4 linked regions of the Homo sapiens genome follow. The protein of the gene in region 4 interacts with the protein of the main gene of each other region in a pairwise test. Each region holds a gene or a part of one and is shown on either strand. Other genes may lie near its edges.

Region 1 (3,500 bases), on a different chromosome or scaffold from region 4:
CTCATGAGGTTCAGGGTGGGACCTCCCACCCATTCAGGGCATGACAGATGATTTTGCAGGTTGTGCAGTGCTCAGCCTGTGCAACCACACATGGCAGTCCTGCCCTACCACCCCAACATCAGAGTGGCAGCCATCTCTTCTCATCCCTAGTGCATCCCCAGAAAAGGAAGCCTATTTAATAGATAATCTCAAATCCCTCCCACTGCCATGTCTAGCAGGCAGGTGTCCTGTGCCACTCACCTTGCTGCGGTACCAGGACTCGGCCTCAGCCCGGCTACGGGTGACAATGTCATCGTACTGTGCCTTGATCTCGGCAATGATGCAGTCCATGTTCAGGTCCCGGCTGTTGTCCAGCTTGACAACCACGGAGGTGTCTGAGATGTGGGACTGGAGAACGCGGATCTCCTGCAGGAGGTGAGGGCAGTGACTTTAGTTGAGAACACAGCCCCACCCACCATGTCCTGACTCCACCTCCTCAGGCTTTCTCTGGTCCCCAACCCTGCCCCCTCACACAGCCTCAGGGACTGCAACCTCTACCCACATCCTGTCCAACACTCCCACCCCCATCTCTCCTCTCTGCTGGCTGCCAGGTCTCTGCCTGGCCCCTGAGCCCGCACCTCCTCATACAGCCGCCTCAGGAAGTCGATCTCCTGGATCAGGGCCTCCACATTGGCCTCCAGGTCTGATTTGCGGAGGTAGGCGCAGTCCACATCCTGGAAAGGTGGGGAGTGTTGGAGCTCAAGGACCCTGGTGATCCAGCCTCTAGATTCCTCTCTCTTCCCACCCATTCCATGAAGCCTGGGGAAAGGAGTCCCCAGTGTCTCATTCCCATGCCCTCTCCTTCCCTTCTGGCCCTTCCCGGGGTGACCTGGCATCCTCTGCCATTCTGAGGACAAACCCTGTTTGTCTTGGGCACGGCTCACCAGCCTTTCACTGCTCCTTACCCTCTTATCTCTCCTTTCTCCCCTCTCCTGCTCCAGGAAGCCTGCCCAGACTGACCCCCCAGCTCTCACACCCTGACCCTTTCCTGTCCCCCAGCAGTGCTCCAAAAGCCCAAGGGCTACTCCTGGTTCTTCTCCATCCCCCCTTAGAACCTGGGATTGTGTCTCTGCCTCAAGGTCAGACTCCCCAAAATGCTAGACAGACTGCACTGTCTCTCAGCAGAGACATTGTATCTGCTATGGCTCCAGGGGCCTCAGCAATAGACCACAACCTCTGGAACAGAGCAGGACACACAGAGGACAGTGCAGCCATCCCCTTGCCCAAGGTAGGTGCTGGTAGATATTCCCAAGTCATTGCCCTTTGTCAAGGCCCTGGATGCTCAATACAAAGGCCTGCATCTGGGCAGTCCTAGCCTGCTGTGGAAAGGTCATTGTGCCCCACGCTGAGGTTGAGACCCCCTGTGTGTCCCCAGGAAGAATCTGTCATTCTGAGATCCCACAGATCTGTGCTTCTCAATCCTGTGTCACTTGCCTTCTTCAGAGCCACAAACTCGTTCTCAGCTGTTGCTCTCAGAGAAACCTCCTCCTCATACCTGAGACAGAGCAGAGGGAAGAGAGGGGAGGTCAGGGCAGGGCAGGTCTCTGCAGAGCCACCATCACATCACACTTCATCACAGCCATGGGGACAGTACTAGAAACACCTCCACACAGCCCCGGCCTGGCAGCCTAGCTTAGTGCTTTCTAGTTGGATGTGGGATGTGTCTGGGATTCTCTATCCACTTTGAACTGGGGATGGAGAGTGCTCATCTGGGACCTCCCAGTCCTGTTCCCAAAGGGGCTCTGAGGTCCCCCAGGAGGCAAATAGGACTCAGCCCCCAGCCCCATCCTGGGAGTGGACAGCGTGGACTCTCAGGGCCTGTAGCCCTAGCCTCCCCTCACTGGTATCAATCCCAGCTCAGGTATGGGGCCTCCTGGACCCGCAGACCCTCAGGACTTAGAACCTAAGGCAGTGCGACACCCAGAGCCCAAGACCTGTCACTCATGAGAGACCCTGGGCTCACATCTGACAGGTGCTACAAGTATAGGGGCTGAGGGTCAGGAGAGAAGGCCTGGACCCTGCAGAGGCTTCCTCCCCACCCAGCGCAGGGGAGAGCTGCTGGGTGATGTGGTTCAGGGAGAGAAGGCTGAAGTGGGACAGAGACAGGTCATGGGAGTCACAGCCCTCCTCTTACACAGGTGTCTGGGCAAAGATTCCACAAAGGAAAAGACCCCGCCACCCTCGGTCAATCTAGTGGTCATGGCCACTCACCCTACCTGGGAGTTCTTATTGTCTAATCCAGTGTATTTAACCTAAACCCCATTCCTGTGCCCAGCATCCCTCTTGCCCGCACTCACTTCTTCTTGTAGCCCTCCAGCACCTCCTGCACGTGGTTAAGCTCTGAGGCCAGCCTCCCGCTGTCGGCCTCCACGCACTCGGCCTCCCGCCGCAGAGTCTCGATGTAGCCCTCAAACAGGGGCTCCAGGTTGCTCTGGCAACACTCGCGGTTCTGGTAGAACTGCAGCTTTGTCTCCAGCAGTTTGTTCTGCTGCTCCAGGAAGCGCACCTGCCATTCGGTGTGGGAAGGTGGGGCAGATGGTGTCTGGTGCCCCAAAGCCAGCTCTGGGGGCTCGCAGGGGAGGTGCTTTAATGGGAACCCCCAAATCTGGAGCTTATCTGAGATTGAGTAGAGGTGGGCAGTGGGAGACAGACAATTTCTGGATTTCCTGGTCATGATCTGTGTCTAGATTTCCCACTCAGGAGTGGAGCAAGGGCTGGGTGGTGTCAGTGCCTGCTCCCTGGGGAGTTGAGTGACCCCCCCCCCACCCCCCACCCAAGCAGATGAACAGAAGTAGAGGCTCAGTCCCTCACTATGAAACTAGGTGATCAGCAACCCACACAGGCAGAGTACTCAGGTTCAGATCACAGATGAGGTTTCTGGGGATGGTGCCAGGAAGAGGGTGTCACAGGCCATCTGGAAGGGAGCTCAGCTGTCCCAGCCCTTCCCCTGTGTCATCTGGAAGTCAGTGCACCCTACTCTCTCACCCTGGGGCTGCCCAAACCCCTCTGAGTTCAGCAGCAGTGGTCACATGCCCCCCTCCCCCAACTCCCTGATGTCTAGCTTGTGCCCCAGAGCAGCCTGGCCACACTTTTCCTTCACAAGCTCCCTCTATCTGAACTGTCAGCTGAGTCTGCATCTTGAGTGCCTGTGTGTGTGTGTCTGTGCATGTGTCTGTCTGTCTGTGTGTCTGTGTGCCTCGCCCATCAGACTGGGATCTCAGGCAGGCAGAGGTCTTTGTGCCTCTGACTCCATCCTTAGTGCCCGGCCCTGGCTGTGTAGGTGGTGGGGGTTCAGGAAGGGTGTGATCCAGGACACCCACCTTGTCGATGAAGGCCGCGAACCTGCTGTTGAGGGACTTGATCTGCTCCTTCTCCTCCTGCTTCACGCACTGCGCGTTGGGGTCGATCTCCAGGTTGAGGGGCGTGAGGAGGCTCTCGTTGACCGACACGGTGGTGATGCA
Region 2 (2,411 bases), on a different chromosome or scaffold from region 4:
CACCTTGGAAAATTCTGATTCCTACAGAAAGAAAATCCTACTGTCTTCAAAGGTTGGACAAGGGGCCAGGCACAGTGGCTCATGCCTGTAATCCCAGCACTTTGGGAGGCCAAGGCGGGTGGATCACCTGAGGTCAGGAGTTTGAGACCAGCCTGGCCAACATGGTAAAACCCCGTCTCTACTAAAAATACAAAAATTAGCTGGGTGTGGTGGCACATGCCTGTAATCCCAGCTACTTTGGAGGCTGTGGCAGAAGAATTGCTTGAACCCAGGAGACGGAGGTTGCAGTGAGCCGAGATCGTGCCATTGCACTTCAGCCTGGGTGACAGAGCGAGATTCCGCTTCAAAAAAAAAAAAGGCCAGGCGTGGTGGCTCACGCCTGTAATCCCAGCACTTTGGGAGGCCAAGGTGGGTGGATCACAAAGTCAGGAGATGGAGACCATCCTGGCTAACACGGTGAAACCTTGTCTCTACTAAAAATACAAAAAATTAGCCAGGTGTGGTGGCGGGCACCTATAGTCCCAGCTACCTGGGAGGCTGAGGCAGGAAGATGACGTGAACCTGAGAGGCGGAGCTTGCAGTGAGCCGAGATCTCGACACCGCACTCCAGCCTGGGCGGCAGAGCAAGACTCCATCTCAAAAAAAAAAAAAAAAAGGTTGGACAAGAATTAACTAGAACACAAACTCTGAAAATACAGAAATGTCTAAGCATTTAAGATTTCAAAAGAGAAGACCTGGTAAAAAGTGAAGGCACAGCATGGAAAAGAGGAGACAGGTGAAGGGAGAGAATGAAGACATGAGTTCACCGGGTCATGGGACGAGGACTGTTGAACCTCCTTCCCAGGCGTCCAGCTAAGTGGAATTAATTACTTGTGAAGTTCGTTTGGGAAAAAGAATTAGAAATTTGTGTGACTCTTTGAAAATAAAAGCCTGTGGCACCCGATGGTGAGAGAATGGTTAGAAAATCCCTTTGAGAGTAAAGAACTATGTAAGTGTAAAAACCAAACTGAAACCACACAAGGGGAGTTTGTAGGGGTGGGAGGCACTGGCCAGGGTGAGGTTCACATCACCAGACTGGCTCAGGAGGGCTTGTGTCCCACAGGAGGGGTTTAGAATATTCTGGGGGAGGCAGCCAGGACCTGTCCCCATGACACACACACCTTCCAACAAGCAGATCCAAAGCCCCGTGAGCTTGACTGATCTCTGTTGGAAGGAAATGACCTAGGGGAAGGAGGTCTCTGGCCCTACCAGGAAAGAACCCCAGGTTCTTTTTTGGGAAGTAAGGGGATGCCCAGGGAGAGGGCAAGACTGAGGGGACCAATGGTCTCGAGCATGGGGGCAGTGACTGCCTGTTGCGCCCTGCCATGGCAGGAGCCAGTGACCAAACTACTATGAGACCTGTCAGCCTGCCTGGCCAGATCAAGATGTCAGCCTGCTGCCATCTTCCCAGTGAGAGCACTCACTAGGGGAGAGAGAAGGCTGAACAGGTGAAAGGCAGGGTACTCAAGGCTCCACATGGGAGCCCCATCAGTAAGGACCTTGAACCTCTTGCGCTTGGGCTCTGGCCTACTGGAGATCTGCTGCAGTGAACAAAGCAGATGTTGTGCCTGGAATTCATACCTACTTTTTTTTTTTTTTTTTTTTTGAGACAGAGTTTCACTTTTGTTGCCCAGGCTGGAGCGCAATGGCATGATCCTGGCTCACTGCAACCTCTGCCTCCTGGGTTCAAGCAGTTCTCCTGTCTCAGCCTCCTGAGTAGCTGGTATTACAGGTGCCCGCCACTATGCCCGGGTAATTTTTGGTATTTTTAGTAGAGATGGGGTTTCACCATGTTGGCCAGGCTGGTCTCGAACTCCTGACCTCATGTGATCCGCTTGCCTTGGCCTCCCAAAGTGTTGGGATTACAGGCATGAGCCACCGCGCCCAGCCCATACTTAAACTGGGTAAGGGGAGTTTAGCATTCCGGGAAATGAAAGGGGCTCCTGAGGTGTACGGGCATGTGTAGCTGACTCAGAAGGTGCCCCACAACTTATGGCACCAACTGAGCCAAAAAAGTGGCCCCCAGGCATCTGCACAGAGCAGAGTTGAAAACTGGCAGCCCACAGATATTTTACTTGGCCTACACGATAGTTTTAAAATTTCAAAATCAACTGCCAACACTAAAAAGTCAGAAAAGCTTCCATTAAAACTTGGTTTTGGCTGGGTGCGGTGGCTCACGCCTATAATCCCAGCACTTTGGGAGGCTGAGGTGGGGGATCACCTGAGGTCAGGAGTTCGAGACCAGCCTGACCAACATGGTGAAACCTCATCTCTACTAAAAATACAAAAATTAGCCGGGCATGGTGGTGCACACCTGTAATCCTAGCTACTCGGGAGGCTGCGGCAGAAGAATCACTTGAACCCAGGAGATG
Region 3 (4,211 bases), on a different chromosome or scaffold from region 4:
AGAATGTTACTGAAGGAAGCTGGCCACCCCTCAAAAGCAGATTCCTTCTGAGGATCCAGTGCGTATTCTTCATACCATATATCACACTTTGTAGCTGAAGGGCTAGATCTGTGGCTCTGTCATGACTGCCTTCCAGCAGACTGCAGGCTCCACAAGAACCCGCACTGTGTGGCTTGCGTGGCCCTGTGTCACTATCACCAGCACAGCGTGCTGCATGTGGTAGGTGATCAGATAGTGTTAGCTGAGTGAGAGAGCAAACTTAGGAAGACACATGTCCAGGACTTTGAGATCTGGTCTCAAAGGGACCCAGGAATACAAGTTTTTGTGAAAAATGGATGGAGAAAGGGAGAGAGCATTGTTTCCCTGATCTGCTGGTGGAAAGACAAGCTGAGCCTCCATCCCCCACACCCAAGGGACCCCTGTGTCTCAAACAGGGGGTACAGGTTCTTCTCCACTCTCAGGCAGAGATGCCAGCTGCAGACTGGATACTCCTCCGGGCTCAGGGAGCTGCCACCATGCTATTTCCTGTGCCCAGAACCCCTCCTGCCCACACTCACTTCTTCTTGTAGCCCTCCAGCACCTCCTGCACGTGGTTGAGCTCTGAGGCCAGCCTCCCACTGTCAGCCTCCACGCACTCGGCCTCCCGCCGCAGAGTCTCGATGTAGCCAGCAAACAGGGGCTCCAGGTTACTCTGGCAGCACTCGCGGTTTTGGTAGAACTGCAGCTTTGTCTCCAGCAGCTTGTTCTGCTGCTCCAGGAAGCGCACCTGCCACCCAGAGGCAGAGCCTAAGAACCTCTTCTTGCAGCATCAGAGGACAAAGAGGGGTTCCCAGCACGAGGGCCTGAAAGCCCCCAACTCTCTGACCCAGAGTCTTCCCTGGAAGGCGTTATGTCATCTCTCTCAAAAATGCCACCAGGGCTTAACCAGTTCACCACCTGGAAGTTCTTCCTGGGAGTTAATCTCTTCTAAGTCAGTTTACCTGGTGTCATGGAAAATGCTTGAAGAGTCCAGATTCTGCTGCCACTTGTTAACATTGTGCCCTTGGATAAAGCACTCACCTCCTCTGTAGAGTGGCGAGGTTAAAGCTCACCTTACTATGAGGATTAAAAGAACCCTTTAACAGAAAGGCACCCCACACTGAACAGCTACTGCTGTTCAATCACACCAAGCCAGGTGGACCTTTTTAGAAAGGCAAACTGTAAAAGTTGAAAAATAAAGCATGTGCCAATTATTCAAACCCTACAACAACAATGCAATTAGAATAATAGTCACCTGCAATATGAGAGTAGGAATGTCCTGTGCTCCAACCCCCTTATTTTACTGATGAGGCCAAGGAGGTTCCCTGACTGCCTGAGAGCTCACAGTGGCAGAGAAGAGCTCAAACTCCGATCTTCTGCGCTGCAGGGGGTGTCTTCTCTCCCTTTGACAATTATAGGAACATCCCTCTCCCAGCGATGAGGTTGGCCCACTACTCCACTCAGCTTCTTTTGTCTAATAACTTGGCCACACCCTTGGTAGGTCCTATCTTATGCTATCCTTGGTCTCTCATGCTATTAGAAATTCCACATTTTTTTTTCCCGATCCTTTCTGGTGGGCATCTCTCTAGTGTGACTCCTCTCTTGAGGTTTTGGCTCTGGAGGGCTCTTTCCAACCCCAGAACATGTTCCTAGTCAGAGCCTTTTCTCCCAGTCTCTCACATCACTGCCACATGGTGGTTGCCTGGATTCAGTGGAGAAGGTGGCTGCAAACTCTAGTTGGACACTGACTACACAGATGGTTTCAACCAAACCCAGACTGTGCACTGCCTGCCTCCCCATAAAGCCTGTGAGGATGGGGACCATGACTCTTGCTCACCCCTGGATCCTGAGCCCCAGGAACAGTGGCTTGGACAAAATACTCTAGACCCTGCTCAGTGGCCAAATCACTGTGTGGTATAGAAAGAGTTCTGTGCCATCCACGAGACCCACTTCCAGACAGTTTTCCAGCACCACACTTATTAGCCCTGCCTTGATGGAGACAGCATCTCCTTGGCATTTAAGCAGTTATTTGGCTTCAAATGCCCTGAGCGCCCACACAGTGGTCCTTTGCTCACTAGGTGATATTATCACTCAGTGTGGAAGGCTCTGCCCCTCGTTCTGCTTTTGTGTTTTCAGTTAATCTCCCCCATCAGTCTGGTAGCTCCCGGTCCCATTTTTGTCTTTCTGTCTGTGTCCTAGAAGTATGACTACCTTTCCCTTTGGCCTGGGAACTTCTGTGGGCAAGTTCTTGCCTTTGACTTCCCTGTCAGTGCCCAGCCTGAGTTCTGAACATGAGTAGGGGTTCAGGAAGGGTGTGATCCAGGACGACACCCACCTTGTCGATGAAGGCCGCGAATCTGCTGTTGAGGGACTTGATCTGCTCCTTCTCCTCCTGCTTCACGCACTGCGCGTTGGGGTCTATCTCCAGGTTGAGGGGCGTGAGGAGGCTCTCGTTGACCGACACGGTGGTGATGCATGGGGGGCTGGGTCCGCACACGCCCCCGGAGCGGTAGCCGAAGCTGCGTCCGCAGGAGCCGGCGCGGAAGCCCCCGCACACGCTGTGGCTGCCAAAGCCCCCGGTGAGGCCGCGGTAGCAGGAGATGCCGCGGTAGGGGGCGGCGGTGATGCAGCAGCGGCTTGGCCGGGGCCCGCAGGCAGAGACACAGCTGAAGTTTCCAGGGCGGAACCCACAGCCTATGGAGTTGAAGCCACAGGTCATGACGGAGGTTAGGAGGTGTCTGAACAGTGGAGTAGATGGCAGAGGATGGAACCAAGGGCCTGTGCTCCCTGGCTGATGGCAGGCCCTTTTATGTGCCAGGGGCAGCTGGTGTTAAAAGAGGGAGCAAAGAGACAATAGCTGAATTTTATTGGCTTGGCATCACCCTGGCCTCTTAAGCTAGAACCCTGCTTGCCTCTTCAGTGTGGCTGCATCAACAATCCCTGGCCACGGGCCCTGTTTCATCTTCAAAGCCCTTTATAAGCTTCCTCCTTGCTCCTGCCCCTCCCACTGGCACTGCTGTGGAGCGGGGAGAGGGGTTCCTGAAAGCATTAGTTGCATTCTGCGGTCCAAGCGAGGGGAATGGGTGCAGTGACCTGGGGTAAAGCCTGCTCTCTGAACCCTGTTCTGAAAGGGGCAGAGCTAGGCTATGGGCCCTGGACCCATGGCCAAGCCCTGGGGTGGAGTGGCTGGCCTGTCCCAAGGAGGGGGCTGCCTCTGAGACAACCTCTTGCTGTAGGCTTTCCTGTCTTTTTCTCAAAGGCGGGTTCCTTTCCTCATTGTCAAGATTGGCCGCTCCTATCCTATTCCTGCTCAGAGCCTGGTCAAGGATGGGAGTGGGGGTAGAGATTTGGGGTGGGAGGAGGGCATGTTCTTTGCACTTTGGGTATTCCTAGTGCAGGGACACCATCTGGGACATGGAAGAAACTGATTCAGAGAGTTCAGGACAGTGCCAGGGCTATGCTTCAGAGTTCCAGGTGTCATTGCTGATGGGATCAGGAGCGGGGAGTGTGGAATACCTCAGAGCTCCAGGGACTCATGGAGGAGAGTGGGGACCTGGGCTTGAGGAGGATTGGGGTGGGGTAGTACAGGATTGAGAGATGACCAGAAAAGAGTCTGGCTCTGATTTGCAGACTAGACTATGTGTATTCATTTATTCATTTATTCATTTATTCATTTATTCAGGAAATACTTATTTGGTGCCCACCAACTATGCACTAGCCACTGTGCTAGGTTCTGGAAATCCTACAGAGACCTGGGGTGTTTGGAGGTAGCATGCATGTGGGGGAGCCAACATTTGGCTAGGGGGAAAGATGAGAAGCCACAGATGGGGGGAAGGCCCTCACAATGTCCAGGCTGATTGGTGTTCTTTAGGTTCCCAGCAGGGAAGCTCAGTGATGGGGTCTTGGGGTGTATGTACTCACCAGGAAGGAGGGAAGGTGCGGGAGGTGAGGGACATCAGCAGGGTCCTTAAATGAGATCACTCTCTCACCTCAGAGAACACACTGGGTGAGAGAAGGGTGCTAGCTCATGTGGCTGTTCCTAAAGCCAAGCTCTCTTACTTTGGGCCCTTGTTCCTTTGGGTTAGGACAGGCAATGGCTTTGATGGATGGACAGTCGGACCGAGCCAGGAGGTTTGCCTTAACCCGAGGACCTGAGCCCATCAACCCTTCCAAACACACATCTCTGGACTGCT
Region 4 (3,409 bases):
AGAAACTTTGGCCTTTTCCTCTTGGATTCGGGATGGCTGCTGCAATTACAGTCATTACATCTATTGATGATAGCATCCTAAACATGAAGGAAAAGGATATGGAGAGTATGGGAACACAAGAAAATTCCCCCTTTTCATCAGCATAAATTTTTTTTTTTTTTTTGAGACAGAGTCTTGCTCTGTCACCCAAGTTGGAACACAGTGGTGTGATCTCAGCTCATTGCAACCTCCGCCTCCCAGGTTCAAGTGATTCTCCTGCCTTGCCTCCCAAGCAGATGGGACCACAGGTGCGCTCCACCACAGCCTGCTAATTTTTGTATTTTTATTAGAAATGGGGTTTTACCATGTTTGCCAGGCTGGTCTCAAACTCCTGACCTCAGGTGATCCCCCCGCCTCGGCCTCCCAAAGTGCTGGGATTACACGCATAAGCCACTGCGCCCCGCCAGCATAAATTTTCTTAATCTTTTTTTTATTCTTTTTTTTTTTTTTTTTGAGACAGGGTCTCACTGTCACACAGGCTGGAGCGATCATGGTTCACTGCAGCCTCAACCTTTTGGGTTCAGGTGATCCTCCCAACTCAGCCTCCCAAGTAGCTGGGACTACAGGCATGCCACCACATCTGGCTAATTTTTGTATTTTTTGTAGAGATGGGGTTTCGCTGGCCAGGCATGTTGGCTCACAGCTGTAATCCCAGCACTTTGGGAGGCTGAGGCAGGCGGATCACTTGAGGTCAGGAATTCAAGACCAGCCTGTCCAATATGGTGAAACCCTGTCTCTGCTAAAAATACAAAAATTAGCTGGGCATGATGGTGGGCACCTGTAATCCCAACTGCTTGGGAGGCTGAGGCAGAAGAATTGCTTGAACCTGGAAGGCGGAGGTTGCAGTGAGCCGAGATCTCGCCATTGCACTTCAGCCTGGGTGACAGAGTAAGACTCTGTCTCAAAAAAAAAAAAAAGAGATGGAGTTTCGCTATGTTGCCCAGGCTGGTCTCAAATTTCTGATGTCAAGCCATCTGCCTGCCTCAGCCTCCCAAAGTGCTGGGATTATAGGTGTGAGCCAGCACACCCATCCCATTTTCTTACCCTTGTTGGCCAGAACTATGTCACATGATCACCTCATCTGAGAAAGCAAATATGTAACAGTAGGCTCATGGCAAAAATCTGGATTCTGTTGGCAATAAAGAAGTGAGGAAGGCTGGGCTCGGCTCACGCCTATAATCCCAGCACTTTGGGAGGCCCAGGCAGGGGGATCACCTGAGGTCAGGAGTTCGAGACCAGCCTCGCCAACATGGTGAAACCCCATCTCTACTAAAAATACAAAAATTAGCTGGGCGTGGTGGCGCAAGCCTGTAATCCCAGCTACTCGGGAGGCTGCGGCAGGAGAATCGCTTGAACCCAGGAGGCAGAGGTTGCAGTGAGCTGAGATTGTACCACTGCACTCTAGTCTGGGCAACAGAGCGAGACTCCATCTCAAAAAAAAAAAGTGAGGAACAGCTACTGGGAATAGGTGACCAACACTATGTCTCATACTGGGATTACTTTCTTTCAAACTGTGCTACAGGATCCTACTGATGAAGTGTAAAGCTTATAATCATCGTAATTATTCATATGAGCCTGGTTTTTGTCTTTAATTTACCCTGAGATAATTTTGTCTCTGGTGGGATGCGGCAGAGATCCTCTCCAATTTGTTTATTTTTGAATTTGTTTTTCCAAGAAAATGCAGTCATCCTTCAGTATCTGTGGTTCCAGGACCTCACCAGATACCAAAATCCATGGACACTCAAGTTTCTGATATTAAGTGGTGTAATATTTGCATATTACTTTTGGATATCCTCCTTTTTAAAGTATAAAAGTATATATTTTATACTTTAAAATAATCTCCAGATTACTTATGACAGCTAACGTAATGTAAATGCTATGTACATTACAAATTTACATAGGAAATTTACAAAGTTGTTGTAATGTTAAGGGAATGATGACAAGAAAAAGAGTGTACCTGTTCAGTACAGACACAATCCAGTTTTTTTTTCCTGAATATTTTTAGTCTGTGGTTGTTTGAATCCATGGATGCTATACCCATGGATATGGTGGGCCAACTGTAACATCATGAGTCTTGAAATGAAAATCATTAAGAAGCCAGGCTTTTTTTGACACATACTTTCTTTAGAAGGTAAGTTTGGTTCTTTTATAATCTTAACCATGGTATGACACTAATATTTTTCTTTTTTCCTATCTAGCTATCTCTTAAAAACAAAAGCCATAGTAAATGCATCAGAGATGGATATTCAAAATGTTCCTCTATCAGAAAAGATTGCAGAGGTAAAATTTCATGATGGTTGTATGCTTTTTTAAAATACAGACAACTCTTGATAACTTCTACCAATGAACTTGGGGATGATGAAATGGCATGATGCTCAATAATCCTTTTTACTTGATTTGACCTTCCCTATTGAATTTGTAATGAAAAACAAAATACTAAAACCACACTGTAAGGTATAGTTCAGGAAGAAAGGAAAAGCTGCTCAACTGCTGCACTCCTGCATTCTCCTTTGTGCTGGGAATGGATATCATCATCTTGCCATAGAGGTGTCTTCTTTGCAAATACCTTGTAATTGCTCAACTGTCTCAGACATAAGAGTGATGAAACAGTTATTAAGAATTCCTGGCCGGGCGTGGTGGCTCACGCCTGTAATCCCAGCACTTTGGTAGGCCAAGGCGAGCAGAACATGAGGTCAGGAGATGGAGACCATCCTGGCTAACACAGTGAAACCCCATCTCTATTACAAATACAAAAAATTAGCCGGGCGTGGTGGCACGTGCCTGTAGTCCCAGCTACTCGGGAGGCAGAGGCAGGAGAATTGCTTGAACTGGGAGGTGGAGGTTGCAGTGAGCTGAGATTGCGCCACTGCATTCCAGCCTGGGCAACAGAGCAAGACTCTGTCTCAAAAAAAAAAAAAAAAAAAATTTAGCCGGTCATGGTGGTGGGCGCCTGTAATCCCAGCTACTTAGGAGACTGAGGCAGGAGAATCGCTTGAACCCAGGTGGTGGAGGTTGCAGTGAGCCGAGACTGCGCCACTGCACTCCAGCCTGGGCAACAGAGCGAGACTGCGTCTCAAAAAAAAATAATTCTTGCCTGGGCGTGGTGGCTCACGCCTGTAATCCCAGCACTTTGGGAGGCTGAGGCGGATGGATAACCCGAGATCAGTAGTTCGAGACCAGCCTGACCAACATGGAGAAACCCTGTCTCTACTAAAAATACAAAATTAGCCGGGCGTGGTGGCACATGCCTGTAATCCCAGCTACTTGGGAGGTTGAGACAGGAGAAGCACTTGAACCTGCGAGATAGAGGTTGTTGTGAGGCAAGATCATGCCATTGCACTCTAGCCTGAGCAACAAGAGTGAAAATCTG

Evidence for each region. Proteins that work in one complex are often made in the same cells at the same time.
Region 1: the proteins of OIP5 (region 4) and KRT86 interact in binary tests that used the Homo sapiens proteins (3 or more experiments, as listed by UniProt).
Region 2: the proteins of OIP5 (region 4) and SPATA24 interact in binary tests that used the Homo sapiens proteins (3 or more experiments, as listed by UniProt).
Region 3: the proteins of OIP5 (region 4) and KRT83 interact in binary tests that used the Homo sapiens proteins (3 or more experiments, as listed by UniProt).

The regions. Positions count from the first base shown.
Region 1 is NC_000012.12:52,302,145-52,305,644, reverse strand, and holds part of KRT86 (keratin, type II cuticular Hb6), read right to left. Parts: coding exon 3,360-3,500; intron 2,546-3,359; coding exon 2,337-2,545; intron 1,535-2,336; coding exon 1,474-1,534; intron 714-1,473; coding exon 618-713; intron 406-617; coding exon 241-405; intron 1-240.
Region 2 is NC_000005.10:139,398,679-139,401,089, forward strand, and holds part of SPATA24 (spermatogenesis-associated protein 24), read right to left. Parts: intron 1-2,411. UniProt on the Homo sapiens protein: Binds DNA with high affinity but does not bind to TATA boxes. Synergises with GMNN and TBP in activation of TATA box-containing promoters and with GMNN and TBPL1 in activation of the NF1 TATA-less promoter.
Region 3 is NC_000012.12:52,318,599-52,322,809, forward strand, and holds the start of KRT83 (keratin, type II cuticular Hb3), read right to left. Parts: upstream 2,801-4,211; 5' UTR 2,738-2,800; coding exon 2,354-2,737; intron 767-2,353; coding exon 558-766; intron 1-557.
Region 4 is NC_000015.10:41,312,183-41,315,591, reverse strand, and holds part of OIP5 (protein Mis18-beta), read left to right. Parts: intron 1-2,237; coding exon 2,238-2,319; exon of another isoform or gene 2,320-3,409. UniProt on the Homo sapiens protein: Required for recruitment of CENPA to centromeres and normal chromosome segregation during mitosis.